2 separate regions of the Homo sapiens genome follow, and region 1 is linked to region 2. Evidence: fine-mapped expression QTL. A gene starts in region 2. The other region holds a variant in brackets. All regions are shown on one strand. Distances are between the middles of the regions.

Region 1 (15,576 bases), 29 kb before region 2:
GGGAGGTGAGGTGGAGGTGGGAGAATTGCTCAAGGCCAATTTGAGACCAGCCTGGGCAAACAGCAAAATCCTGGCTCTCAAAAAAAAAAAAAAAAAAAAAAATTAGCTGGGCATGATGGCACACACACTGTAGTCCTACTCAGGAGGCTGAGGTGGAGGGTTGCTTGAGCCCAGTTCAAGGTTACAGTGAGCCATGATCACACCACTGCACTTCAGCCTAAATGAGACCCTGTCTGAAAAACAAAACAAAACCAAGCAAAATTGAATCTCATCATTACAATAAAATTGAGAATCCAAAAGTCTATCCAAGTAAGCATGTGAACTTATAATATGAATTTAATATCAGTGAGGAAAATGATGTATTATTTAATAAATAGTGCAGAAAACTCATTAACTATTTGGAAAAAACTATACTGTGACCTTACTTCTTAAATCAAAATAAATTTGGGTGGGGCAATGATTTAAATATGAAAAATGCAACCATAAAATATATGCTAGAAAAAATATGGGTAAATATTTTCAAAAACTTGGAATGAGAAAGACCTTTCTAAACACCTCACAGAACCTAAAGTCCATGAGAAAAAAATCCCTAAGAAAATTTTAATGTAAAACTAAATGAAAATAGGCTTAAAAGCAAACAAAAAACAACTGGGGAAAAAAAAAACATATGCAACAGATGTGATATATAAAGGGGTTTCTCAAATGTATGAAGAATTGTTTCTTATGTATTAATTAAAAATCTCTAGAGCTCAGCTGGGCATGGTGGCTCATGCCTGTAATCCCAGCACTTTGGGAGGCCAAGGTGGGCGGATCACTTGAGGCCTGGAGTTTGAGAACAGCCTGGCCAACGTGGCGAAACCCCATCTCTATTAAAAATACGGAAATTAGTTGGGCGTGGTCGTGCGTGCCTGTAATCTCAGATACTCGGGAGGCTGAGGCACAAGAGTCGCTTGAACCTGGGAGGTGGAGGTTGCAGTGAGCCGAGATTGCGCCACTGCACTCCAGCCTGGGCAACAGAGTGAAACCCTGTCTCAAAAAAAACAAAAAACAAACAAAGAAACAAACAAAAACAACTCTAGAGCTCAATAGCAAAAAGTGAGCTGATGCCATGAAAATAGGCAATTCATAAAAGGAAGTGCAATGTCCAAAAATCATATGCGAACATGAATGTAGCTAGTCATCAGGGTAAAAACAAAGATGATTCTTCGCGTACTGGATTGGCGGTGATTAAAAGAGTCACAGAAGGCAGACTGATGAAGAAGTAGAGAGTAAGTTGCTCTCCCTGCACTGTGGGTAGGAGTGCAAATCAGTGGAGCATTTCTGGAGAGGAGTTTGGCAATATGTAGGAATTTTTACAAGTTATATACCCTTTGGCCCAGTAATCCCCCTTTATGAATCTACCTGAGGGAGATAATTATCCAAAAGTGAAAATATGTGTGCCCGAGGATGCTTATTGCTGATTTGCTGTTAAAAATCCAGAACACTAAAAACAACCCTAAAATCATCACTAGGAGATGCTATTGCTCCCAATAATCAATACAATTTATTATAATGCTCTGTACTTTATTAGATGTCTGTAACATAATGCTGAGGGAAGTATGCAGTATACTTGCTGCTTCCAGGACCCCATGTGTAACATACGCCAGTTATAGAAAATTCAGAGAAGTCTAGAAGGATGTTTATCAAAATTTTGAGAGTGGTTTCCACTCAATAGAGGGTTTTAAGGAAATTAAAAAAGAAACTTTTCGATTTGTATTTTTCATTAACATTGGAATTTAAACAAATAAGTATGCATCATGTTTACAAAGACATTAAAGCTATTTCTAAAGAGAGAAAACATTAAAAATTATCTTCAAATTAATCCTTTATAATTTTATTTTTTAACCAAGTAAAGAGTATGATCTGGTACTCCTTTCGGAGGCTAATCTCTAGATTACCTCCAAGGGAAGTGTTTTTCACATGTGGTCTTGGGTTATCTCTATCAGAATCACCTATGATAATCACCTTTTTTAAATGTAGAGTTCCAGGCTCCCTTCCCTGCCACTACCCTACCCCAACCAAACCCAGTAAGTCAACATATCTGAGGGTGAAGCCCCAACATAGTTCCCAAGCACACCTGGTGACATGTATGCATATTTAAGCCTGTGAATCATTACTCAGGAGAAGAAAAAAGGAAGAGTTAGCAAGTTTACCAATGTCATTCATATTTACTTTTTTAGTCACGCTCCCTTGCTTTCTCTCTTTTTGGCTTTCCACCTGTTTTCCCACAATCTGCAGAAACTGAAATCAAAATGAACTAAGAGCTTTAACTATCAGGTGTTTTCAGGATTAAAACATTTAGGAAAACCCACAGAATGGCTGGTATTCATAGCAACCACCAATCCTTTTGTCTCAATTTCTCAACTTACCTTGTACTTGGATTTTTGATGAAGCCAGTGTTTACGAAATTAGGACACAGACATGTTGTTTTGACTCCAGTTATTTGTAAGGCAGCCAGTTCATCTGTCAAAGTTTTATGAAATCCAACAGCAGCAAACTTGCTTGAACTGAAAATAGAGAGTTTACAAAATAATTCAAGAATTCTGAAATGTCTGCCTGTTTTCCTCAGTTCAGCATGGTCCTCTGCAGAGCAATGTGGGCATTCCCTGAGTCTCAGGCCCCAGCCCAGAGCTACTGCATCAGAGCCCACATCTTACAAGATTCTCAGGTAAATCTGTAGGCACATTAAGGTCCAAGAAGCCCTGACATAGAAGATTTACTGCATCTTAGCATCACTTACGGAATAAGAACATTTCCTTAAAAAGCCTTTTAAAGAAAATTAGTAGAGTATTTGTTTTTGTTGTTGTTCCACAAAATTCAGTGTCACTATAAGCTGTTCCTTATTTACTTTAAGATGTCCATAGAATTTGCTGAAAACTTTTCCTGGATAAATCCTATTCTTCCTTTAAGTCACAGCTTCACTTCCTCAAAGAGGCCTTTCCTAACCCCCAGTCTAAATTATTTTCTCATTATATAGTAATTTTCAGTTTTCTATGATAGTATCTATCTCAGATTTGTAACTGAACATTCATTAGAGAAATTTTTTTTTTTTTTTTTTTTTTTTTTTTTTGAGACAGAGTCTTGCTCTGTCACCCAGGCTGGAGTGCGGTGGTGCGATCTCGGCTCACTGCAAGCTCCGCCTCCCGGGTTCCCGCCATTCTCCTGCCTCAGCCTCCGCAGTAGCTGGGACTACAGGCGCCCGCCACCATGCTCGGCTAATTTTTTGTATTTTTAGTAGAGACGGGTTTTCACCATGTTAGCCAGGATGGTCTCGATTTCCTGACCTCGTGATCTGCCCACCTCGGCCTCCCAAAGTGCTGGCATTACAGGCGTGAGCCACCACGCCCAGCTGAGATTAAATTTTTTAAAACATCTGTTTCCCACACCTTTCCTATAAGCTCCATGACTGTTTTGGTCACCAGTGAATCTCCAGGGCCCAGCACAGTGCTTGGCTCTTAGGTGCTCAATGAATATTTGTCAAATGAATGAATCACAATGCAAAGCGTTTATTTTAACAGCTCTTTCATTTGGAAGTAGTAGTGAAATTACTTATTCTAAATGGACATTACTTTCTCAGGTTTTTTTAATTTAAAAAGGGCTTTATTGAGATATAAATTCATATGTCACACAAAGCATTCACTTAATGTACACAATTAAATGGTTTTTGATATATAATTAACTTAAAAGTTGTGGTATAATATATATCATGTAAAACATGTCATTTTAACCATTTTTAAGTGTGCAATTCAGTGGCAATAATTATCAGATAATCTTTTATTCTGTTAAATCTGTATGAATTAGCAATTACACAAAGTAGCTATACATTCTGGCCAGTTAATCTATGCTTTGGAAGACAGAAAGCTGTGGAAATTTTTTAAAAAATTTTAAAAAAAATTTCTTACCTTTTTAAAAAAAGTTTAGGCACTTATTGAAGCTGATATGGTTTGGCTGTGTCCCCACCCAAATCTCATCAACAATTGTAATCCGAATTGTAATCCCCACATGTTGAGGGAGGGCACTGGTGGGAGGTGACTGGATCGTGGGGGCAGTTTTCCCCATGCTGTTCTCGTGATAGTGGGGGAGTTCTCACAAGATCTGATGGTTTTTTAGGTGTTTGGCAGTTCGTCTCTTGCTCTTACTCTCTCTCGCTGTCTCTCTCCTGCTGCCATTTAAGACATGCCTGCTTCCCCTTCCTCTGTAATTGTAAGTTTCCTGAGGCCTCCCCAGCCACGCAGAACTGTGAGTCAATTGAACCTCTTTCCTTTATAAATTGGCCAGTCTTGGGCAGTTATTTATAGCAGGGTGAGAGGGGACTAATACAGAAGGCTTAAAAGAAAGATTGTTAGATTAAATTATATGAGATTAAAAGCTTCTGTATACTGAAAAACAACATAAATAAAAATCAGATCTAAAATAGATTACTAAGTGCTAGACATTGCCCTCAGTTATTCTGATGCATTTTGGAGTTTTTTGGGGAGTCTTTATCTGTCACTTAGGCTGGAGTGCAGTGATGCAATCATAGCTCACTTCAACCTAGGAACTTCTGTGCTCAAGCAATCCTATCACCTCAGCCTCCCAAGTAGCTGGGACTACAGGCATGTGCCACAACACTTGAATAATTATTTTACTTTATTGTAGAGATGTGGGTCTCGCTACGTTGCATAGGCTGGTTTCAAACTCCTGGGGTTAAGTCATACTTTTGCCTCAGTCTCTCACGGCGCTGGGATTATAAGTGTGAGCCACAGTACCTGGCCTATTCTAAATAATTATTTTGTTTAATCTTCATAATACCCCTATAAAATATATTAAGATCCTCATTTACCAAAGAGGAAACTGAGGTAAAGATGGGTTATCAAACTTGCCTGAAGATACAAAACAAAGTGGCAGAATCAGGTTTTACGTGTGGGTAGTAAACCAGGTTTATATATGATATATTCTAAACTTTATTAACTCCAAGCAAATTAAGAGGCAAGTGACAAACTGGTAAAGCATTTGCAACATATAAGACAAGGATAAGGTTAATATATGGCAACTTTTATAAAGGAATAAGACAATACTCTAATAGATAAATGGCTAAAGGGCATTCATGGAAAAATCATAATATAAAAATGCCAGTAGATGTAGGCATATAAAAATGATTTACTTTAGGAATAATTCATATAAAAGCAAAGTAAAACAAGACGGAATTCTTGCCTAGCAGTAATTATAAGGACAGAAATTTTCATCTGAGTTTTTTTCAATGTACAGATATTTCACCTCATATAATTGAATCTAGCAATCTTTTCTTTTTAAGGCTTCATTCAATATATGTCAAACTTTCAAAAAAGTGACAAAAAACACTTTCTTTCCACAGCTTTCTATTTTCCAAAGCACAGGTTAACTGGTAGCCTTTTCTGGAAGGCAGTTTGGCAAAAGGTATCAAATTCATTAAAAGTATGCCACGCTCTCAGATCCGGTGTTTATCCCAAGGTAATAATCAATGATGTCTCCAAAGATTAATGTTCAAGGATAGTCCCTGGAGTGCAGTTCATTAAAGCAAATAGTTGGGAATAATGTGAAATGTCTGTAGTGGACAGCTGTTGTTTTTTCCCATCAGCATTTGTGTCCCCTTGTTCTGGTAATACCGCTGTCACCAAATGCATACAGTGATTGGCTCCAGGCTAGTCTAGTCACTGACCTCTAGAACAAGAACGTTTGAAGCCACTGTTGAAGTGATGTTTTTTTTCCCTTCCTGCTGGACTTGGAATTTAAAGGGTTTAACCCTGGAACTTCTGGTAGATATCTGGCCATCAGAGGAAGACAGCCTGCTTGAGACTTTAATCACAGAGCCAAAAAATTCCTCTTTGGGCCTGGGGCAGTTTAAGTTTTTTGTTCCTTGCAACTGAAAGAGTGACAAAATACCAATGATAATGAGTAAATTGAATAACTAGTGGCACGTATGTGCAGTGGTATCCCACGCAGAAATAGAAAACGATGTTGCACATAATATTTATTAACATATATTATTTTAAATTAAGAGCCAAAATTATATATTTTTTCAATGCATAACTATATGTTTGCATTTAAAATATCCTTAAAAATTATAACATGCATATCATGATTATTTTGTCAGAGGCATGTAAACCACAGCAACTCCATCTTAAATAGGAGCTGGGTAAAATAAGGCTGAAACCTACCGGGCTGTATTCCCAGATGGTTAAGGCATTCTAAGTCATAAGATGACATAGGAGGTCAGTACAAAATAAATATAGGTCATAAAGACCTTGCTAATAAAACAGTTTGCAATAAAGGAGCCACCAAAACCAAACCCACCAAAACCAAAATGGCCACAAAAGTGACCTCTGGTCGTCCTCACTGCTACACTCCCACCAGCGCCATAACTGTTCACAAATGCCCTGGCAACGTCAGGAAGTTACCCTACATGGTCTAAAAAGAGGAAGCATGAATAATCCACCCCTTGTTTAGCATATTATCAAAAAATAATCATAAAAATGGGCAACCAGCACCCCTTGGGGCTGCTCTGTCTATGGAGTAGCCATTCTTTTATTCCTCTACTTTCTTAATAAACTTGCTTTCGGCCGGGCATGGTGGCTCATGCCTGTAATCCTGGCACTCTGGGAGGCCAAGGCGGGCGGATCACGAGGTCAGGAGATCGAGACCATCCTGGCTAACACAGTGAAACCCCGTCTCTACTAAAAATACAAAAAATTAGCTGGGCATGGTGGCGGGCACCTGTAGTCCCAGCTACTAGGGAGGCTGAGGCAGGAGAATGGCGTGAACCCGGGAGGCGGAGCTTGCAGTGAGCTGAGATCGCGCCGCTGCACTCCATCATGGGCAACAGAGCGAGACTCTGTCTCAAAAATAAATAAACTTTCTTTCACTTTGCACTGTGGACTCACCCTGAATTCTTTCTTTCATGAGATCCAAGAACCCTCTCTTGGGGTCTGGATCGGGACCCCTTTCTGGTAACATCTTTCTGGCAACCACGAAGGGACTAAAGTGCAGAAACCCTGACCCTATGGCTACCTTTGGGTAAGTGTTGGGGTCCTGTAACATATTTCTGGCAGACCATAGAGTTACAATACTGAAGAGACCCCTGACCCAAAGGAAAATCATCAGGGCACAACAGTGGGCTGACTTTGAGTAAGTGGGGTGCCTACACCTGGGTAAAGAATGGGATTGGGTTAGAGGCCCAACTTAGGGGAGTTAGAGTCTCTCCTAAGACAGAGTGGGTTACAGGTCCTTCTTAATAAAAGGCAAGGACACTTGACTGACGTCAAGTTAGAGGCCTGACTTAGGAGGATTAGAGTCCCTTCTAAGATTTAGGAGGTTAGGCCAGGTGCAGTGGCTCACGCCTGTAATCCCCAGCACTGTGGGAGGCCAAGGCGGGTGGATCACTTGAGGTCAGGAGTTCGAGACCAGCTTGGCCAACACGGTGAAACCCGGTCTCTACTAAAAATACAAAAATTAGCCAGACGTGGTGATGCATGCCTGTAATCCCAGCTACTCAGGACACTGAGGCAGGAGAATTGCTTGAACCCGGGAGGCCGAGGTTGCAGTGAGCCGAGATTGTGCTGCTGCACTCCAGCCTGGCCAACAGAGCGAGACTCCATCTCAAAAATAAAATATAATAAAATAATAAATAAAATGAATAAGATTTAGGGGGTTAGAGGACCCTCTCAGTAAAGTCCCTTTCAGCTAAGAACAGGTTTGGCACTATGGGATGTTAACTGCTGTTCTCTTTGGATTAATCTGCCTTTGTACTCTTTGCTGATGGCTATGGGTGACAGGGTTAGGCATGCACAGGATCGTGGGACATGGGGAGCTTTTTCCTGCCTAAAAGGGGAAACTTGAGAGCTGACAGGATTGCTGAAAAAGATCCCTGCTCAACCGACAGCAGCAGCCTGAAGTTTTCAGTGTTGCTGCAATAGGTGGGTCTTTCTCTGGCCTCCCTGATCATTTTGCCTTCCCCACCCTGCCACAGGCAATACTTTCCGTCTCTACTTTTCCTTTCCCTTTCTTATCTTTTCTATTTCTCAGGGCGACCTTCTTGCCCAGAGACCACATGTTGAAATTCCAAGTCAGAGGTTGGATTAAAGATGATGGGGCCCAACTGGGGGTAAATTTAAGCCTTGCCAGTTTGATATTGGGTGCTAAGCAGAGTAGCTAATGTCTATGTTTTATCATGCATATTTTGCTCTGGTCAAAATGAAAAAAAAAATTTTTTTCCTTTATGATGCAGCTTGGCCCCCGGGGAGATGGTGCCACAAGCCCGATCACTAGGGCTGCTCAGGGAAAAGGAACCCAGAAGCCTGGCATGCCAGCAAAAGGCTAAGAATTTGTTACCAGTCAGATTTTTAGCTTCTCTCTCTCTGTGCAAACAGTTGAATGAATGGAAAAAAAATCAGTGTTTATCACCTCTGTAAAGACTTAATTAATGCGAAAAAGAATTCTAAGGCTAGTCTTAAGCTGGTGTATTTTGTGCTATGAATTCGTTTTTCCGTGTAGAGGGGTACTTCAGGATAAAACATGGGCTTAGAACACCTGTAAGCCCGCTTTTCAAGACTACCCAGCAAGCTGGTCAGTAACAAACTTGGTTGCAGGTCCCTGAAACAAACAAAAAACCCGATGAAGTCTCCACCTTGTTTTATGTGCTTGGGAGCTTGACCTTTTAACCGCATGGCAGTACCTTCTCTTGGGCTCTGTCTTCCAGGGAACAAGAATTTTAAAGTTCATGTCATAGCCAGCTCTGAAAATCATATTAAATAGTTAAAAGCCTTTGCAAGCTCAAAATTAACTAATCTAGACTACTTCTGAGAAAAGAAATAGACACTGCCCAGACCTGTAGCTCAGTAGCTAAGGTTTTGCACTTTCACAGTGGCAGTCTAGGTTCAATTCCCCACCCAGGAAATAAGTCATTACTGATTTAATATATGTGTCTATTCTCTTCTCCTCCATGGACTGTCTTCAATTTTCCTTCTTCTAAGCACCTAGGAGTTTACCTTTGGTAAAGTTCAGAAGCTGGAAATATTGGCCGCTTGGCATGGCTAAAGTCGGGTAATAAGAGCTCTGAAAGGATTTCTTCTTTAAAGAGCACTATGGTGAAAAGTCAGCTTAATTAAAAGTGGAATAAGCTATAAATATATTTAAAAGGCCTTTATGTTTTTCTCTTCTTGAAGCTTGTTTTGCTGGAAAAAGGTTTTTTCTTCTCAGTCAAGTGAATTATTTTTGTTTTTTTGTTTTGTTTTGTTTTGTTTTGTCTTGTTACTATTAATGCTCACATGAAAGGCCCGTAGATAACTTCTGGTAGCTTGGGACTACTTGGGAAAAACAAAGGCAGCACCACAGATCCAGTTTTGGGAAAAAAAAAAAAAAAAGAAAAAAAACCCCTCTGTTTTCCTCATGAGACCCCAAGAATTAAAAGCAGATAGATTCCTCTCAAAATCAAAGGCTCTGTTCTGTTTTGCATTGTGTTATCTGACGGTTTTGAGTTTGGGGGAGGGGGGTTATCAGCAATTACTTTGCATTATGAGAGAGCTTTGGTGTGTAACAACTAGGTAGGAAATGTACTTTAAGGGGTGGCTAATAGTAGTTATGGAGGGATACTTGACTCTGCACACTTGGATCAGAGAAGCATGCTCTAGGCCACCTGGAAGATAAGGCAACATCCTCACCCCTCACTGGGAGATGAGACTCTCATGAGGATGGGCTGATTACAAAATGGGCTGATTGGCTTTAGGTTGCCTTGCAATGAAATGCACAGTCGGTAAAAGCACTGCATTGTCTTCTCCCGTAGTATTTCCCTCCTTTTGGGGATCCAGGATCCAGTATAAAATACCACCTTTAATTTTGGAGATCTGTCTGCCTTCAGCTGCTTATTTGCTACTTATTTAGCCCTAGAAATGCATGCTGTCCCAGCTCTGTTCCTCCAAGGGCTCCACTCTGAAACCTGTCATCCAATTAAGAAACTGGCAAATGGTGGGGCGAGGTGGCTCATGCCTGTAATCCCAGCACTTTGGGAGGCTGAGGTGGGCGGATCACTTGAGGTCAGGAGTTCAAGACCAGCCTGGCCAACATGGGGAAAACCCGTCTCTAGTAAAAATACAAAAATTAGCTGGGTGTGGTGGTGGGCGCCTGTAATCCCAGCTACGCGGGAGGCTGAGGCATGAGAATCACTTGAACCTGGGAGGCAGAGGTTGCAGTGAGCCAAGATCATGCCACTGCACTCCAGCCTGGGTGACAAGAGCGAAACTTTGTCTCAAAAAAAAAGAAACTGGCAAACGAAAAACTGT[A/G]TAAGTGCTGAATCTTCTATTTATAGTGTATGTTTATATATTACAAAGCTCTAATCAATTGACTTAGAAAAGTAAGTGCGTAAATATTTTTTCAGAAAAATAGAAACTAATGCCTTTTTGTTCGTGTGACTTTAGTAATCTTTTGAAAATAAAGACAGTTTTAAAGTTTATTGGTAAAATAAAATGTCTTAAAAATGTAGACATTTGGTCTAAATTAAGGTCAGATATCAGATTTGCTAAATGCTTTAAGGACAAACTGTTTCTTTAACTTTTGAAAACTGTTCTATTTACCTACTTTAAAGCCATCAGATTCTAGATAAGGCCTCATGCCCCTGGCTATGCTGGAGAGTCAGCCCTTATCTGCACTTCTGCCTGGTGTGTCCTAGACTAGTCTCCACACCTAGTACATAATTAAAATCCCTTACTTAACCAACGTTTTCATCAAAAATAAAAGTTGCTAGAAGTTAGCATTGTAATGTGTAATTAAGACTACTGAAGAAACAGTTTTACATGCAAGGTGTATAAAAAAGGTGAAATGTGTTTTTGGTTAAAAAAAAAATTGTAAGAAGAAGCATGGGAATGCGGATTATTTTCTGCCTAGATTAAAGTGTTAAAGGATTGTGTTAAGTGAAAAAAAAAAAAAGATTTAAAGAAGTTGTGGAAGGTTTTTTTTAGATGGAGTTTTGTTCTTGTTGCCCAGGCTGGAGTGCAATGGCGTGATCTTGACTCACCGCAACCTCTGCTTCCCGGGTTCAAGCAATTCTTCTGTCTCAGCCTCCCAGGTAGCTGGGATTACAGGCATGTGCCACCATGCCTGGCTAATTTTGTATTTTTAGTAGAGACAGGGTTTCTCCATGTTGATCAGGCTGGTCTTGAACTTCCGACCTCAGGTGATCCACCCATCTTGGCCTCCCAAAGTGTTGGGATATACAGGTGTGAGCCACTGCACCTGGCCTTTGTGGAAGGTTTATAAAAATTAATTGTAAGAGATTCTGTGTATGAACATATTAGCTAAAGTTAAAGGGGTATTATTCAGTTTTTCCATAAATTAAACATTGGAATAAAAGCACAACAGGTTTCTCTTAGAGGACTTATCTGCGCTTTCACAAAAAAATGTAAAGGGTTATAAAGGTTTATAAAATCTTACCTTAGGATTAAACATTAAAATTGGGTAAATATGTCTCTAAGGTTTTATTAAAAATTGGGTTTAACATTAATAATACATTAATGTAAAGGTGAAATTTCGCTTATTTGGTATAAAAATCATCCAGGAAGCATTCTCAAATGTGAAACAGTGTTTTGCTTTCTTTGGACTATATTTGTATAAATATGTTATTGGTATATGTTCCAAAGTTATAAGAAACTCCTTTATTTCTAATATGACTTAGTGTATGTTACTAATAATTATAATTGTTATGTAAAATTTTGTATGCCACAAAAGTAACCAAATTTCCTTATCAATTGTGGCTTTAATAGTGGCTGTCCTAAAGTTTTTATCATCCACAGACAGTTGTTGTCTTGTTTTAATCTTCTTTAAAAGGTGGTTTATAATCAACTATAGAATTCTAGCAGATGTTCTTAAATGCAGGTTGCTAATAACTTTAGAAATTGTAACATTAAAATAAAGAAAACAACTTTCGAAACTCTCATAAAAAGCTGGAATGTTCATGAATAACAAGTAGAACAGGAGTTAACTGAATTAACTGAACCAATAGAAAACTGAAGTAATTTTTTTTAACTTTGCTTAAAATATTGCTGATCTTTTATTTTTCAAAGGAAACTTCTTTTAAGCTATTTACAGCTTGCAGCAATTAAGTAAAATATACTCCTATGAACAAAATTTGAAACATATTTGTTTCTCTCTACCTGATTTCTCCGGAATGGAAACCAATTGTAAGTATTCTTAACTTATGGCAATATAGTTGTTTGTATAAGTGCAACAAAAATCTGTTTTCTTTTGTAATGGGACACTATTGGAGAAATTGGTTATTTTACCAAGGCTTTGACTGGAATGGTGTGCTTTCCTTTAAAGAATCAAACTTGACTTGTAAAGCCAATAAAAGCCCTATGGGAAACTGGCCTCATACTTTGCCTACACAGTCCCTGTACAGGGTTTCTGACCTATGGTAAGTAAAGAATGTCACTTTCTTACAGGTCCAGGAGGCCCAAGTTAACTTGGGACCTCAAAAGAAAAGTGTTTTACCCAACTCATAGGTATTTAAGGGTACAAACCCATGGCAGGGCTTAGCTTTAAAAAAGTCTTACCTGAGATTCCTTATAAAACAGAGTTCCATCAAAGCCAATTAAAAAGCCTGTGTGAAAAATAATTATTCTCGCTGCACTTTATACAAATAATCAGACCAAGTATAATAAAGCAAATCAGTCTTACCATAATGTGTCTTTAATAAAAATGGGAAACTGGAGAGAGAATATTATATTTCAAGAACTATAGTATACTTGTTATTAAATTCTAGTCTCAGTTGTTTTTAAGTTTGTTTCTGCAATTTAGGCTAACCCTGTTTATTCCTGTAAACCAACCAGGGATCTCTAACTGCTGCTCAGAAGAAACAAGAGGGATGGGTAATGTAAAATTCTAGGCACATTGCAATCAGCTAGCAACCCCATATCAGCTTGGTCTCAACAGTTGCCCAGTTCATGGAAAGCCTTCTAATTTAGTTTACTTGGAATAACTTTACTTACTTTGCTTTACTCTTATGGAATATATTGCTGTTATACCCTTTGTGTGGGAACACAGGACAGGCTTACTAAATGTTTTCTTAAACTAAATACTTATTAATCTCCCAGATATCACCTCTTGTCAAAACTCAAGAGTCGGCTAGGCACGGTGGCTCATGCCTGTAATCCCAGCACTTTGGGGGGCCGAGGCGGGTGGATCACAAGGTCAGGAGATCAAGACCATCCTGGCTAACATGGTGAAATCCCGTCTCTACTAAAAATACAAAAAATTAGCCGGGTGTGGTGGCGGGCACCTGTAGTCCCAGCTACTCAGGAGGCTGAGGCAGGAGAATGGCATGAACCCGGGAGGCAGAGTTTGCAGCGAGCTGAGATCGCACCACTGCACTCCAGCCTGGGTGACAGAGCGAGACTCCATCTCAAAAAAACAAAAAACACACACACAAAAAACTCAAGAGTCATGAATGGCCCTCGCCACACTGATGCTTTCTGACTAAGCTCCTCTCTACCCTGAACACAAGAGACCCTAACAGTTAGGCAGGAATATCATGGCCCCATTCAGCCTGAAGAAGTTACAAAAGATGGATTTTCATCCGTCTGCAACTCTTAGGATTAAGAGTTCTCTTATAAAAGGGAAGGGGGAAATGTCAAGAGGCATGTGAAACAGAACAACTCCATCTTGAATAGGAGCTGGGTAAAATGAGGCTGAAACCTACCGGACTGCATTCCCAGACTGTTAACGCATTCTAAGTCACAGGATGAGATAGGAGGTCAGCACAAAATACAGGTCATAAAGACCTCGCTGATGATAAAACAGGTTACAGTAAAGGAGATGGCCAAAACCCATTAAAACCAAAATGGCCACGAGAGTGACCTCTGGTCGTCCTCACTGCTACACTCCCACCAGCGCATGACAGTTTACAAATGCCATGGCAATGGCAGGAAGTTACCCTACATGGTCTAAAAAGGGGAGGCATGAATAACAAACTGCTTGTTTAGCAGATCATCAAGAAATAACCATAAAAATGGGCAACCAGCAGCCCTTAGGGCTGCTCTGTCTATGGAGTAGCCATTCTTTTATTCCTTTACTTTCTTAATAAACTTGCTTTCACTTTGCACTGTGGACTCACCCTGAATTCTTTCTTGCACGAGATCCAAGAACCCTCTCTTGAGGTCTGGATCGGGACTCCTTTCCATTAACATTTCTGCATGGTGAAGCTATCCATAAATTTAGTTTTTTCTTTTACTAAACCTTATTTTCTGATTTTACTTAAGTGACCAAAAATGCAAGAATATATTGAAAGTCAGAGTTAATGATCTTGAGTGTGTAAAAGGAATAACATATTTTTCAACTTTATGGTGAACCTATATATAGAAAGGCATATATATATATGAAAGCTAAAAGTGAGTAGATTTTTGCCCCCTGCACTTTGTAACATTACATCAAATTCCTTCTTATTAGAAATAGTCTAAATTATTCAGATGTCTTGGAGGGCTGAAAAAAATAGTCTGAATTAGTACTTCTTATTCCAAATTCTTTTTTTTTTTTTCTTTTTGTGTTGAGGTCTGTCTTTGTTGCCCAGGCTGGAGTGCAGTGGTGAAATCATGGCTCACTGCTGCCTTCAATTCCTGGGCTCAAGCAATCCTCCCACCTCAGCCTCCTGCGTAGCTGGGACTACAAGCACGCACCACCACACTTAGCTAATTTAAAATATTTTTTGTAGAGATGAGATCTTGCTATGTTACCCAAGCTATTCTTGAACTCCTGAGCTCAAGTGATCCTCCTGCCTTGGCCTCCCAAAGCCTGGGGGATTACAGGTGTCAGCCACCATGCCTGGCCCCAGATTTTTCTTTTAAATAACATTTTGTTACAAGCTAATGTTCAGAACTCAGTTTTACTGAGCGTTCCCATACTGGCAACTTTTCATGCTTATAAATTGGCTATTTGGGTTGACAGAATATATTAGCTAGCTAATTGTTTTCTTTTAAAAATCAAAATACTTGTGAACAAATTACTTAGCAAGCAGCAAAAAACATTTTAGAATAGAATCAAAAGCTTCACCTTCCACCATAAATCCAGTTCTTTTATCTTGCATTCTTCATATTAATCATTAAAACTGTTGAACTAAAACTCTGAAAAGAAATTAAAATTTTTTTCCTAAGATAGGCTACTAGAGCTAGAATAAATTATTTTCTGTGGCTGTAGTAACTCAGGACAATGATAGATGAGGGCTGAATTACAGGGAAAAGGATCAATACTCTTATTTTTCCTCTCATTTCATCCCAAAAACTAGGCGTCAGAGCATATATGATGAATTCCACTGGGGCAAAGCATTCTGGAAGCTAAAATTAGAGGTGGGAACTCCCTGTTTTGTGTGAATAACAGGAAGTGGAATTGAAATGTAATGCCAACAGGCAACCTCCTGTTATTGAACACTTGCAGGATTTCAGATTTTATGCTAAGTGCAATACATTGTATGATTTAAATCTTATAGCATTCTAAATAAGTTAGATATTATTATTATTATTATTATTTTTTGAGACGAAGTCT
Region 2 (15,576 bases):
GCCACATCTGACATCTTTGCTTTCTAGTTTTGGTAGCTGGCAAGATCACGCTGCCACATGTCAGACAGAGATGACAGCAGATTTGAGGAAAAGGGGTTATGAGTCCAATTTGGGGCGCCAATTTTGAGTCAACTTAAGTTTAGGATCATACCATTGGGGTTTTTTGTTGTTGTTGTTATCTTTGCTTGTTTGCTTTTGGCCAATTTTTGCCTTTTTTTTTTTTTAACTTTTAAGAGAATGTCTCAAAAGATATTTTGGATGAAGATCTAGTATTGTGCATTCTGCAGGCCAAGTATTAGGTTGTTGGAAAAGTAATTGCTGTTTTTGCCATTAGTTTAATGACAAAAACTGCAATTACTTTTGCATCAACCTAATAATTGTCAACTAATGCACTAATGGGCAGACCCTAGGAGGACTCATACATTTATCCACAGAGAGGATGGTGAATCAGTGTACACATTTGTAAATGGCAACTAATGTTGGAAAGGCCAAATCTGGACAGCTGTGGGGAGAATTAGTAGCTTGCATAGTGAAACTGTTATGATAATAAAGGGAAACAAGTTCTTTTTCTCCTGTGGGAAGTCAGGGACCCCGAATGGAGGGACCGGCTGGAGCCGCGGCAAAGAACATAAATTGTGAAGATTTCATTTTAATATGGACATTTATCAGTGCCCAAATAATACTTTTATAATTTCTTATGCCTGTAATCTCTTAATCCTGTTATCTTCATAAGCTGAGGATGTACGTCACCTCAGGACCACTGTGATAATTGTGTTAACTGTACAAATTGATTGTAAAACATGTGTGTTTGAACAATATGAAATCAGTGCACCTTGAAAAAGAACAGAATAACAGTGATTTTTAGGGAACAAGGGAAGACAACCATAAGGTCTGACTGCCTGTGGGGTCGGGCAAAAAAGAGCCATATTTTTCTTCTTGCAGACAGCCTATAAACGGATGTGCAAGTAGGAGAGATATTGCTAAATTCTTTTCCTAGCAAGGAATATTAACATTAATACCTTGGGAAAGGAATGCATTCCTACGGGGAGGTCTATAAATGGCTGCTCTGGGAATGTCCGTCCTATGTGGTTGAGGTAAGGACTGAGATACGCCCTGGTCTCCTGCAGTACTATCAGGCTTATTAGGGTGGGGAAAAACTTTGCCCTGGTAAATCTGTGGTCAGACCGGTTCTCTGCTCTCGAACCCTGTTTTCTGTTGTTTAAGATGTTTATCAAGACAATATGTGCACCACTGAACATAGACCCTTATCAGTAGTTCTGCTTTTTGCCCTTTGAAGCATGTGATCTTTGTACCTACTCCCTGTTCTTACACCCCCACCCCTTTTGAAACTCTTAATAAAAACTTGCTGGTTTTGAGGCTCAGGGGCATCATGATACGTGATGTCACCCCCAGCGGCCCAGTTGTAAAATTTCTCTTTATACTGTCTCTCTTTATTTCTCAGCCGGCTGACACTTATGGAAAATAGAAAGAAGCTACATTGAAATATTGGGGGCAGGTTCCCACAATATTTTTCTTTTACTGAAATCTCCCTCACAAACTGTAGTATACTCTCATGAGGAACTCTTATTCCTCAAGGGACATCAACATCTCAGGTAAACTTTATTTTGCTCTCCTATACTTAACCAGCAGCTTTTGGCATTTCCTTTTACAAGTATATTAATGTTGTATACACATAGGATAGAATATTATTCAGCCTTAAAAAGAAATGAATTTCTGACACATGCTACACGTACAACCTTCATTATGCCAAATGAAATAAGCCAGACACAAAAAACAAATACCATATGAATGTACTTATATGCAGTACCCAGAGTATCATATTCATAGAGACAGAAAATAGAATGGTTGTTGCCAGGACCTGGGGAGAGAGAGGGCTGGGGAGATATATTGTTTTAATGGGTACAGATTTTCATCTTGGGAAGATGAAAAATTTCTGGAGAGAAATAGAAGAGATCACTGCATAATAAGGTAAATGTACTTAATGCCACTAAACTGTACACTCAGAAATGGTTAAAATGGTGTGTTATGTCATATATTTTACCATATTTTAAAAAGTTTTTTAAAAGTATATTGTATTGGCCAGGTGCGGTGGCTTACACCTGTAATCCCAGCACTTTGGGAGGCTGAGGTGGGCAGATCACAAGGTCAGGATTCTGGGAATAGCCTGGCCAATATAGTGAAACCCTGCCTCTACTAAAAATATAAAAAATTAGCTGGGTGTGGTGGTGGGCACCTGTAATCCTAGCTACTTGGGAGGCTGAGGCAGGAGAATCACTTGAATCCGGGAGGCAGAGGTTGCAGCAAGCCAAGATTTTGCCACCGCACACCAGTCCGGGCAACAGTGCGAGACTCTATCTCAAAAAAAAAAAAAAAAGTATATTGTATTGATTGGGTCTTCTCTTTTTTGAACAAATATATTTCCTTACATGAACAAATTTTACAATAAAAATTTATGTCCCATTTATTCTGTTTTCAGAGATTTGCTTATTACTGGTTGGCTTTCTGTAACCACCAAGCAACTAACCACCACTCCACTATATGGATGCAAAGATACCCTTCTTTCACATCCGCTGTCTCACTTTTGCCCTGTTTCCTTGGTCTTCCTCATTTAGGTTGGTCTGCTTTCCACACCTTCTGAATTGTGAAACTTTTTTTTTTTTTTCTGAGATGGAGTCTCGCTCTGTCACCCAGCCTGGAGTGCAATGGTGCAATCTTAGCTCACTGTAGCCTCTGCCTTCCCGGTTCAAGTGATTCTCCTGCCTCAGCCTCCCTAGTAGCTGGGATTACAGGCATGCGCCACCACACCCGTCTAATTTTTATATTTTTAGGAGAAACGGGGTTTCACCATGTTGCCCAGGCTGGCCTTGAACCCCTGGCCTCAAGTGATCCTCCCATCTCGGCCTCCCAAAGTGCTGGGATTACAGGGGTGAGCCACTGCACCCGGCCGGTGCAACAAATTTAAGTTCTAAATTCCTCCAGAAAAAATTCCGGACAGTGCCCTGTAGATAGTTGGTAAGAAATAAAAAATAAGCAGATCTTCAAAAAAAAAATGAATTCTTCCTTTAAAATGTTTTGCAGCACAGTACAATTGCTCATAACTCTTCAAGATTTCCCTTGGTAACTTTTTTCAAATATGTTTGTCTATTGGTACAACTAAGACCTTTACACCCATTACCTTGATTACTAAAAATTGAAAAACTTTTTAAATTATGCCCATTATTCTTTCAGTTATTCATTAATTCAGTTTTTCATTCAACAAATAGTCTTTGAGCATATATTATATGCTCACCACTTACTGTAAATTTTTCTTTCCAAACTAGTATTTTAGGAAAAAGGGTCTCCCTGTTGCGCAGGTTGAGTGCAGTGGCTATTCACAGGCATGATCCCACTACTGAACAGCACCAGAGCTCTGACCTGTTCCGTTTCCAACCTGGCTGGTTCACCCCTCCTTAGACAACTTGGTCTCCTTCATGCCCACCGCCAGAAGGTACCATATTGATTCTGAACTTATGCAGACATGCAGAGCGCACCACAGTCCAGAACTCCCGGCCTCAAGCAATCTTGCTGCTTCAGCCTCCTGAGTAGCTGGGGCTACTGAAGCATGCCACCATGCCTGGCTACAAACTATTCTAACCAAGCATGGGAATGAGAATAGTCAAGAAGTGATAGATTATCACAAAGCAGAATGAATAATTCCCATTATCAGGCTTAGTGGAACAACAAAGCTGACACCACCATTAATTCTTCCCTAAATTAACATATGGTACATGTGGACACTGCTGTCCTCATTACATGGATGAATCTAAGAGATTGTCTTTGTACTCTAGGTGAAAGGGCCCTCCGTTTGGCCCCTCCCTGCCCTGCCAGCTAGATCTCATAACAATCAAACACCACTCCACTTTCTTCCTCATTCTCCAGGTATTCACCAGCCCAAGAGCTTCACATCTCCAGTTTCTGCTACCTGGACTGCTCCAAATCCCCACCCTGTCCTTTCCCAATCAGGTTTAGTGGTTCTCAGCCTTCTATAATTTCAAATCTATAAAACGGCAAGAAAAATAGAGTGGGATGTGTATACCGAACTAGGATTGCCAAACTTTTGGCCAAATAAGGACACTCAAAACTAACAAAATGACCCTCATATGTTATCATGTAATTTCATTAACAAATATATTTTTTACCCACAAAAAGTAGGAAGGATATAATCTCAAAATAAAATATAGATTATTTAAATTAAACTAATTTAACCTAATAAAAACTCACTACATTGTCCTCAATTTTTCTGACCATTACTCCGAATCTCTGCTACTGCCAACCCGGTTCAATAGTCCCCATCATTTCATCTCATGCCTGGATTATCACAGTAGTCTCTTACTTTACTTGTTCCTTCCATCTTTTCTCCTCTTACATCTCTCCTAAGCCCAGCAGCTGGAGGATCCTCTTCAATAGGAATTACCCTCAAAACCCTTCATTGACTCCCCAGAGTAAAAAGCCAAAATACAGGAAATTTTATCATCTGTAGCTCCAGCCCTTTAAATCTCTACACCGGTACTGTCTCATAGAAATATAACGCAAGCCATGTATATAATTTTAATCTTTCTAGTAGTCACACCAAAAAAAAAAAAAACAATCTAGTGGCATATTTTATTTAACCCAACATATCTAAGTAATTATCATTTCAACATGTATACTATATAAAAATTATTAACACAAAATTCTACATTCTTTTCTTCATACTAAGTCTGCAAAATCCAGCATGTATTTCCACTCACAGTGCATCTCAAATCAGACTGGCCACATTTTGAAAGGCTCAAGAGCCACAAGAGGCTAGGGGCTACTACCTACCACTGTGTTGCACAGAGTAGATCTAGACCTTTCTTGTGCTTCTCTCCCTTCCCTCAGTCTATGCCAGGCTTTGCATTTGCTGATCCCTCCCTGCAGGACTCACTGTGCTCTCAGCTTCTTCTGATATTGATTCAATTATCTCCATCTCAGTGGGGCCTTCCTGGCCACCACTGTAAAGTCAACACTCCCCTCCTACCCTCCCCACCATATAGAGTCTTTTATCTACTTTCACCTTTTATTTTTTTCTTTATGCTTAACACCATCTAACAATTATACATTTTATTATACAGTGTGGCATACTGCCCCTAGCTCATGAGGCTCATGTCTTCCTCAGTGCTATATCCTCAGTTCTGCATTAGAACAGTGCCTAACAGATAATAGGTGCTCAATAAATATTTGTTGGATAAATGCATGTCACTGAAGATCAGAGAAAATTTTGTACAAACCAGCACTGGACATTGGAAGTCATTAACCTAACTAACTCTTACATACATTTAAATTTTAGCTTAAACCACACTTTGTCAAGGAATAATAAGAACACTGCAGTGTGTTTACCTTATACCACACTGTGCTAAATGCTTTGTATGCATTATCTCATATCATACTGACAGCTTTTTGAGGTATGTATTGTTATTTTATCCATTTTGCAGAAAAGGAACTAAAGCTGTGGAAACGTTGAGTAAGTTACCCAATCAGAAAACGAAAGCTCAGATGTGTCTGACTATATCACCATGCCAGACCTTGACCATGCTGGTCCAGGCTGGACCTGGGTTGTATTTTTCATTGCTCTTGTAATTACTTTTTTATTTATTAATTTAATTTAATTAATTTATTTATTTTTAAGACAGAGTTTTGCTCTTGTTGCCCAAGCTGGAATGCAATGGCATGATCTCGGCTCACTGCAACCTCTGCCTCCCAGGTTCAAGCAGTTCTCCTGCCTCAGCCTCATGAGTAGCTGGGATTACAAGTACACGCCACCACGCTCAACTAATTTTTTGTATTTTTGGTAGAAATGGGGTTTCACCATGTTAGCCAGGCTGGTCTTGAACTCCTGACCTCAGGTCATCTGCCCGCCTCGGCCTCCAAAAGTGCTGGGATTACAAGTGTGAGCCACCGCATCCAGCCTGCACTTGTAATTACTTAATGTCCATTTTCCCTACTAGACTGAGGTCATGGAACCTTATTTTCTGTTTGTCACCCTATCCCTAATGTCTAAGCAGCAGACAGTCATTATTTGTTGATTGCTGTCTTCATCAGCCACTCACTGGGTTAACCCTCATTTAACTTCACATCCTTTGAATTATTGTTTACAGCATTGCATGTCAACTAGTGTGTAATGGATAATGTTTCAGGCCATCAGGTATCTTCTAGAAACCCCTTTGTTCATCTACCAAAGGTCAAATAAAAGGTTGGATTCTAGGTCCTCTTCTCCTCCCTAAGCCACACCTACACTTGTCCTAGGTAAAAAATTACACTGAAAGTTTTTTTCCCTTTTATTGTTTTTACTAAAAGATGCTTTCCCGCCACTCCTTCAGTATCACAGGTCAAACGTGGTAAAAAATGTTTTTTAAAAAAATTTGAGACAGGGTCTCACTCTGTCACCCAGGCTGGAGTGCAGTGGGGCGTTTACAGCTCACTGCAGTCTCCACCTCCCAGGCTCAAGCAACCCCCCACCTCAGCCTCCCGGAAAAGATGCTTTTTAAAATTACTCTTGGCAATAACTATGGCAATGTAGCATTGGTTTCTGTTGAGTATAATCTTTTTGTTTGTTTTTTGAGACGGAGTCTAGCTCTGTCGCCCAGGCTGAAGTGCAGTGGCGCCATCTTGGCTCACTGCAACCTCCGCCCCGCGGGGTTCCCGCCATTCTCCTGCCTCAGCCTCCCCAATAGCTGGGACTACAGACGCCCGCCACCACGCCCGGCTAATTTTTTTTTGGTATTTTTAGTAGAGACGGGGTTTCAGTGTGTTAGGATGGTCTCGATCTCCTGACCTCGCGATCCGCCTGCCTTGGACTCCCAAAGTGCTGGGATTACAGGCGTGAGCCAACGGCGAGTATAATCTTTCAAACCACTTTTCTCATTAACAGTAAGTAGGACTTTCTCTTAATAGGTACAAGCTTCTTACTCTTTTAATATATAGCTAAAACGATTGTTTTTTCCCTATTTTTAAAATAGAGGGATCAATGAAATCAGGTTCAGGAAAAAATTATGAGTTATCCTTAGGGCAAAAATGGGGATCAATTTACAAATGGGGCAGTAACTGGGACTATTATAACCTCTAGGTCTGTTTATCATGTGATCATACAACATATTAATTCATGCCCTCCCATCTGCAAAATGGCAATACTAATTTTTTTTTCCTCCCTGCTTTGCAGAGATGAGGTAAAGGGTGGTTGCCAGCAAAATGCAGACACATCCACAAATTAAAGGTACCAGAAAGTAAAACATAGTAAACACTGTTACCTTATTTATATCCCAGAGAACCAGCTTGCTTTTAAGTTTAGCAAATTCATAGGCAGTCAGTCTCCCAATTCCATGCCCAGCTCCTGTAATCAGCACGATTTCGCCGGTGACTGATTTTCTCCTCTTAGGAATAAAAAGCTTCACGAAGGACTCTAGGGAGCAGACGATCAGTAACGGGAGAAGCAGGAGGATGTCCAGAAGAAATTTCATCCCTTTTGTGGCTGCGAGCGTTTGGTGTGTTTTTTTTTTTTTTTACCACTCTAAACTGCTTTTAGAGGGTAGCTCGATCTAACACCAGAAAGAGTAGGGGCGAGAGCAAGGAGGAACTCCCGTATCAAAGAAAAACAACTCCGAAACCGTTCCTTCCGCTGGGCTGGGCTTTGTTGGTCTTTCGCAATTGGCTCGGGCTGCAGTGCTTGCTAGCTCAGAGATCTGGGAGGGACGAAGTCCAGACCGGAGCAAAGCTTCCTAGTTCTGCTTTGCGCAGCCCCCACGCGGTGTGTGGCCGCGATTGTCTTTTACACCACTTTCTCCCGGTGTCGTGAGCCGGCCTTGGAGGGTTAGTTGCTCACTTGTTTTCCTAAATTGGATAAGTTCCAAGGATAACCGACAGTGTCCACAGGCCAGATGCTTCTTTCATAGTTGAAGGTTGCTTATCACTAGATAGGGGGTGCCGCTGGGCGCGGCGGCTCTCGCCTGTGATCCTGGCACTTTGAGAAGCCCTGGCGGGAGGATCGCTTGACCCCAGGAGTTCGAGATCAGCCTGAACAACATAGGGAGACCCCCGGTCTCTTTTTTTTTTTTTTTAATTAGCCAGGCGTAGTGGCGTGTGCCTGTAGTTCCAGCTACTCGAGAGACTGAGGCACGGGAATTGCTTGAGTCCAGGAGGTGGAGGCTACAGTGAGTGAAGATCGCGCCACTGCACTCCAGCCTGGACGAAAAGGCCAGACTTTGTCCTAAAAAACAAAAACTAGATAGAGGATGCAAATGTAGATTCCTATCTTAAAGGATCCTGAAAAGACCAATCGTTCTGCTTCCAGCTGAGAAATTGCGCTACATCACATTTTAGTTTGAACTAAGCACGATTTCTGGAAGACAGGGGAAATTTTGTCTGTTCAAGGACAGCTTCAATCAAGCGCCAGAAAAAATTGTTATCGTATTAAAGGGATTGTTTCCACAAGAAAGAAGAGTATATTTGAATAATCATTTTTCACTTGACCTATTAGAGTTTGAAAATAAAAAATATATGTTGTACTTTAGGAATTTTATCTTTATTCAAGTGAATAAATAGCAAATCATTTAGCCTAAAGATTACCTATGTAACATTTGGTTTTGTAGCCTATATAAATGGGTATTCAGTATATGCTAACTAGTGACTTGAAAAAATTCTAGAGATTGGTTACTGGAAGAAAAGACCTAACTAGGGCTTGTGTCCAGTAAGAGCTTAATAATGGTATTGCATGCATTTTTTTCCAACTCATTTTTGACAGACATTGGATTTGGGTTTTGCGCAAGACACTCCAGTGCTTGGGAAGGGACTTTGTTGTGTGACAATAGTCAACTTTCATATTTAAGAGCCAGAAAGATCACACAAAAAAATCAAAGTTCACAAATAGTTCAAACTCGATTGTCCCTCTTACTTAAGCAGCCATACGTTGTTATAGGGGATGAAGGGATAGTGGCAGCCTCACAAAAGTGAACCCCATTATAGAATTCTTTGAATTCAGAATATCTACAACTTTTTTTTGGATAGCCTCCAAATCCAAATTTACAAAACACTTGTATAGAAAGTTTACAAAGTGTTCTTCCACATATATTATTTCATTTGATTTTCAAAAGCCTCCTAGGAAATAGAGAAAAGTAGAGTCAGGATATATTTATACCTATACTGTAAATGAATAAATCTGTTAGATCAACTTTAAAATCTACACAGTGAGTAAAAGTGTAACTGGGGCTACACATATGTTCAGTGTTTGTCAATTTTTTGGTCCAACACCTACAGGAATAAATTACATCTGACATGGTGATCTACTATAAGAAGTGTTTCAACTATGTTGAGTTTCATATATTGAGGCTCTAGCTATGCTATTTTTTTTTTTTTTAAAGGAGTCTCCCTCTGTCTCCAGGCTGGAGTGCAGTGGCGAAATCTTGGCTCACAGCAACCTCAACCTCCACCTCCCAGGTTCAAGCGATTCTCCTGCCTCAGCCTCCCAAGTAGCTGGGACTACAGGCACGCACCACCACACCCAGCTAATTTTTGTATTTTTAGTAGACAGGGTTTCCCCATGTTGGCTAGGATGGTCTCAATCTCGATCTCCTGTTCCACCCACCTTGGTCTTCCCAAGTGCTGGGATTACAGGCGTGAGCCATGGCACACGGTCTGGCTATGCTATTTCTTATTCCATTCTATTAATTAAAAAAAACTGGGTAGTTTTAACCTACAGTTGATCAAGGTTTCATTGGTTAAGGGAAAGAACACAGCATTTGGACGCAGTCGTACCTGAATCCCTTATGTGTATGTGACTTCATCTCTCTAAACATGTTTCTAAATTTGTAAAATTGAAATAATACTTACCCTACAGGATTCTTGTGACGTTCAAACGAGTTAATAGAAAGCACATTGCTTTATCAACTATTCAACTTTATGTAAATTATAATTAACACCAATAGAATGTGAGTGATGTGAATGGTCTTGTGAATGATGGTTGTAACATGATTTTGTGAACAGCAAACTAGATGTTTACAATTAAAATCATTCACAGTTAGAACACAGATTAGCTTCTATCTGACCACTATGTGATTTTATGTATTTGTGGTTTTAAAAAACATCTTTCATTGGTAGGGTTTAAAATATTTTGTACTTGGGACATCTGTTTTTTAAAAAATTTTTTATCTATTTATTTTGAGACCGGATTATGAGACTAGCTAATTTTTGTATTTTTGATAGAGGCAGGGTGTCCCTACCCTGGTAGAGGCTGGTCTTGAACTCCTGGGCTCAACCAATTCACCGGCCTTGGCCTCCCAAAGTGCTAGGATTACAAGTGCGAGCCACTGCACCCAGCCTATGTGGGGCATCTTAATTACATGCTGCCTTCCCAGAAGTTGAAATAGTATTTAAAAAAAAAAAAAAAAGATAAGGATAAGGGGGTATTTTTCTTTAATTTTTTTTTTTAAACCCTAACTTGAACCAGAAGAATAGGGGTCTTTCATCAGTGTCTTGAACACTTACTTACTATGGCCAGGCATATGCTTCTTCTGGAGCTTCCTCACCTCTCTCAGCCCTCACCTAACACATTTCATTTTATCTTCTCAATAACCTTAAGCAGTAGGTTCAATAGAAATCTCTATTATATGAATGAAGAAATAAAGAATTAAGAGAAACTAAGCAAACCACTTGAGATCATAGTATAAATGTAGAGTTGAATTTAAACCTAGGCTGTCGTCACCGGCTTTTTTTTTTTTAAACTGGGAGTCCCAGCCAGAGCAATTAGCTGCCTTCTTCCCTAACGCAAAAAAGAAAAGTGAATCCAGTTCTGAACCATTAGATAAATTCGAAAAGATCAAAACTCCTGATTTTGAATCACAACATTAATAACACTTCCCTTTCATACAATTAGGTAAATATCTAATTAGCAGGGAATAGATTGCAGCTGCTAAAAGAATGCGTTCGAATTCCTACCAAGCTTTTAATGAGCCGTGTGATATTTGGTTAATTACTTAACCTCTCCTGAGTTCTCAGTTACCTCATCTGTAAAATGGATGTAATAGCAGCTTGGTTGCCGTGAAGAGTAAATGACATATATACAAAGCACAGAGTCATTCATAAGAGTAAAAAGCACAAGAGTAAATGAGATATATATAAAAGCACATCTTGCATACAAACATACTTAGTGAATGACAGCCATTACTATATGTTAATCAGTTATAGTAAGACGCCTGTATTTGCAAGGCTGTCTCTGTAGTATCCCAGCAGATTAGGAATGAAAGACCACTGTAACACTTAGCAATTACACAGGCCAGTGAAGAATGCTCACTTTCACTATAAAAAATACTGAGGAAAAATATACAGAAATGATTGCCAGACCTACCAACAGAGGTATTTCCCATAGTTTTCTTGTCATCCTGAGATAGAAGACTTCACAATTTGACTCCGAAGTCTGAATTTTAGAGCTGGAGAAATTTAGACATTAGCTTGTGTGCAATGACACTTTTTTTTTTCTATAATGAATCTATGAATTCAAAGTAGTACTGTGTCCGGAATTGGTGGGTTCTTGGTCTCACTGACTTCAAGAATGAAGCAGCGAACCCTCGCGGTGAGTGTTACAGCTCTTAAGGTGGCGCGTCTGGAGTCTGTCCCTTTTGATGTTCAGATGTGTTCGGAGTTTTTTCCTTCTCGTGGGTTCGTGGTCTCGCTGGCTCAGGAGTGAAGCTGCAGACCTTCGCGGTGAGTGTTACAGCTCTTAAGGCAGCGCGTCTGGAGTTTTTTGTTCCTCCCGGTGGGCTCGCGGTCTCGCTGGGTTCAGGAGTGAAGCTGCAGATCTTCGCGGTGAGTGTTACAGCTCATAAAAGCACCGCGGACCCAAAGAGCGAAAGAACAAAGCTTCCACAGTATGGAAGGGGACCCGAGTGGGTTGCCAATGCTGGTTCGGGCAGCCTGCTTTTATTCTCTTATCTGGCCCCACCCACATCCTGCTGATTGGTAGAGCCGAGTGGCCTGTTTTGTCAGGGTGCTGATTGGTGCATTTACAATCCCTGCGCTAGATACAAAGGTTCTCCACGTCCCCATCAGATTAGTTAGATACAGAGTTTGGACACACAGGTTCTCCAAGGCCCCACCAGAGCAGCTAGATACAGAGTGTTGATTGGTGCATTCACAAACCTTGAGCTAAACACAGGGTGCTGATTGGTGTGTTTACAAACCTTGAGCTAGATACAGAGTGCCGATTGGTGTATTTACAATCCCTGAGCTAGACATAAAGACTCTCCACGTCCCCACCAGACTCAGGAGCCCAGCTGGCTTCACCTAGTGGATCCCGCACAGGGGCTGCAGGTGGAGCTGCCTGCCAGTCCTGTGCCGTGCGCTTGCATTCCTCAGCCCTTGGGCGGTCGACGGGACTGGGCGCCGTGGAGCAGGGGTTGGTGCTCCTTGGGGAGGCTCGGGCCGCACAGGAACCCACGGAGTGGGTGGGAGGCTCAGGCATGGAGGGCTGCAGGTCCCGAGCCCTGCCCTGTGGGAAGGCAGCTAAGGCTCGGTGAGAAATCGAGCACAGCGCCGGTGGGCTGGCACTGCTGGGGGACCCAGTACACCCTCCGCAGCTGCTGGCCCGGGTGCTAAGTCTCTCATTGCCTGGGGCCAGCAGGGCTGGCCGACTGCTCCGAGTGTGGGGCCCACCAAGCCCACGCCCACCCGGAACTCCAGCTGGCCTGCAAGCGCCGCACGCAGCCCCTGTTCCCACTCGTGCCTCTCCCTCCACACCTCCCTGCAAGCTGAGGGAGTGGGCTCCAGCCTTGGCCAGCCCAGAAAGGGGCTTCCACAGTGCAGTGGGGGGCTGAAGGGCTCCTCAAATGCCGCCAAAGTGGGAGCCCAGGCAGAGGAGGTGCCGAGAGCAAGCGAGGGCTCTGAGGACTGCCAGCATGCTGTCACCTCTCAGTATTTTCAAAGTTAGAGTCAATCCTCTCAAACTCTACTGCTGTTTTATCAACTAAGTTTATGGAATATTCTAAATGCTTTGTTTTCATTTCAGTATCTTCCCGGCATCTTTACCAGAAGTAGATTCCATCTCAAGAAACCGATTTGCCTTGCACTTGTTTATGGGATGGAGATGGCTTCTTTCCTTAAACCTCAGGAACCAACTTCCACTAGCTTCGAACTTTTCTTCTGGAGCTTCCTCACCTCTCTCAGCCTTCATAGAATTAAAGAGAGTTAGGGTCTTGAACTGGATTAGGCTTTGGTTGAAGGGAATATTGTGGCTGGTTAGATTTATCCAGACCACTAAAACTTTCTTTATATCAACAATAAGGCTGTTTCACTTTCTTATCATTTGTGGGTTCACTGGCATAGAACTTTAAATTGATTTCAATAATGCTTCCTTTGCATTCACAGCTTGGCTAACTGTAGATGCAAGAGGCCTAGCTTTCAGCCTATCTTGCCTTTCAGCATGCCTTAAGTTTAATCACTTCTAGCTTTTGATTTAAAGTGAAACACATTTGACTCTTCACTTGAACACTCAGAGACCACTGTAGTGTTATTAATTGGCCTAACTTGAATATTGCTGGGTTTCAGGAAACAGGAGGCCTGATTATGGGGAGCAGGTAAGAGGGTTGTAGGGAGACGACCTGTTGGTGGAGCAGTCAGAACACATGATGCTTATTGATTCAGTTTGCTGTTTTATATAGATATGTGGTTTTTGGTGTCCCAAAACAATTACAATAGTAACATCAAAGATCACTGATCACAGATCATCTTAACAGATGTAATAATAATGAAAAGATTTGAAATATTGTGAGAATTACCAAAATATGACACAGAGACATGAAGCGAGCTTTTGGGAAAATTGTGTCAATGGACTTGCTCAATGAAGGGTTACCATAAAGCTTCAATTTGTAAAAAGCACAATATCTGTGAAACGCAATAAAATGAAGTGCTGTAAAATGAGGCATGCCTGTAATTTGTCGAATGTTCTATGGTTCATAATGTGGGAATCTAGGTCTCTCTGACTTTGAGGTTATACTCTTGAAATGTCCCTCCCCCACCACCTTTTTTTGGCCTCTAAGATGTCCTTGGATTTGTAAAGACTAGAGAGAAGATCCACCTTAAATGGATATTAGTTGGCTTCTTTCAGCCAAACACTCCTTTTGTCAGTAGACCTTAGAATCTGGAGAAAACAGAAAAAAAAAACCTCAAAAAACAAACATAAAACTAGCCAACCAACCAACAAATAGAAAACCACAGAGATGATCAATAGATAAATATCCAATAAATCATTAGGATAATGGGCAGTTTTCTTTAGGACTCCTCTGCTCCCACCTGAGTCTCTCCGCACTATAAATCACATCAATCCAACATGTAAAATGACCTGGCTGTTGCCCACTTTTTGCTTTATAGTGTCCATAGCTGTGGAAGCTGTCCAAGTATTCAGGAAGAGCCACACAGAGAAGAGGTCTTTTCAATGGATCTTTATTTTGAATCTAAGATATGACAAGAAAGTTCTTGAAATATGGGTTTGGATATAACTTTTGCAAATTACATGTCATATGTTTCAATGATAACTTCCTAGAAAATTAATAACTATGATACCACTTTAAGAAAAAATTAAAACGAGAAAAATGACTTTCTTTTATTTATTACAAGTGGTAATATGCTCGCAGCTCTAATGATGAGATTATCAAATAAATTACACATTATCACATATCACTGCAATCAAGAACCGCAATTTTAGTATTATCCATCTCAACATGTTTAAAAAATGTGTTGGCTGGGCACAGAGGCTCATGCCTGTAATCCCAGCACTTTAGGAGGCCAAGGCAGTCAGATCACCTGAGGTCAGGAGTTCGAGACCAGCCTGGCCAACCTGGTGAAACCCCATCTCTACTAAAAACACAAAATTAGCTGGGAGTGGTGGCGGGTGCCTATAATCCCAGCTACTTGGGAGGCTGAGGCAGGAGAATCACTTGAACCCAGGAGGTAGATGTTGCAGTGAGCTGAGACTGAGACACAGCACTCCAGCCTGGGTGAAAAGAGTGATACTCTGTCTAAAAGAAAAAAAAAAGTGTTACATACCTTTGTGTAAGCAATCTCATTTATTTTATTTCTTATTTTATTATTATTTTTTGAGATGTAGTCTCACTCTGTTGCCCAGGCTGGAGTACAGTGGTGCGATCTTGGCTCACTGCAACCTCCGCCTCCTAGGTTTGAGTGATTCTCTGGCCTCAGCCTCTGGAGTAGCTGGGAGTACAGGTGGGCGCCACCGTGCCCAGCTAATTTTTGTATTTATGGGGTTTTACCATGTTGGCCAGGCTGGTCTCGAATTCCTGACCTCAGGTGATCTGCCCACCTCGGCCCCCCAAAGTGCTGGGATTACAGACATAAGCCACCACGCCCAGCTAGCAATCTGCTTTATAATACTAAATTATTTCATTGAAATTAGCCTAAATAATACTTATAATATACTACTAAATTATGTTTATTAGCATACACCATTGGAGAAAAACTGAGTTTTAATAATATAGATTTAGAATGACTGACTATTTA

The links.
Region 1: its variant is fine-mapped to the expression of HSD17B11 in whole blood (TOPMed, PIP above 0.99).

What each region holds. Positions count from the first base shown.
Region 1 is chr4:87,354,871-87,370,446 of GRCh38, forward strand. It overlaps HSD17B11 (hydroxysteroid 17-beta dehydrogenase 11), which reads right to left. Exons shown (of 7, transcript NM_016245.5): 5 at 2,409-2,546. Among named protein-coding and RNA genes, the nearest start is that of HSD17B11, 29 kb to the right of the region's middle. The variant A/G (reference allele first, on the strand shown) is at 10,332.
Region 2 is chr4:87,383,536-87,399,111 of GRCh38, forward strand. HSD17B11 (hydroxysteroid 17-beta dehydrogenase 11) reads right to left here and starts at 7,653. Exons shown (of 7, transcript NM_016245.5): 1 at 7,326-7,653. The coding sequence starts at 7,535. It also overlaps the pseudogene RN7SL681P. RefSeq lists enhancers at 7,865-7,934, 7,948-8,520.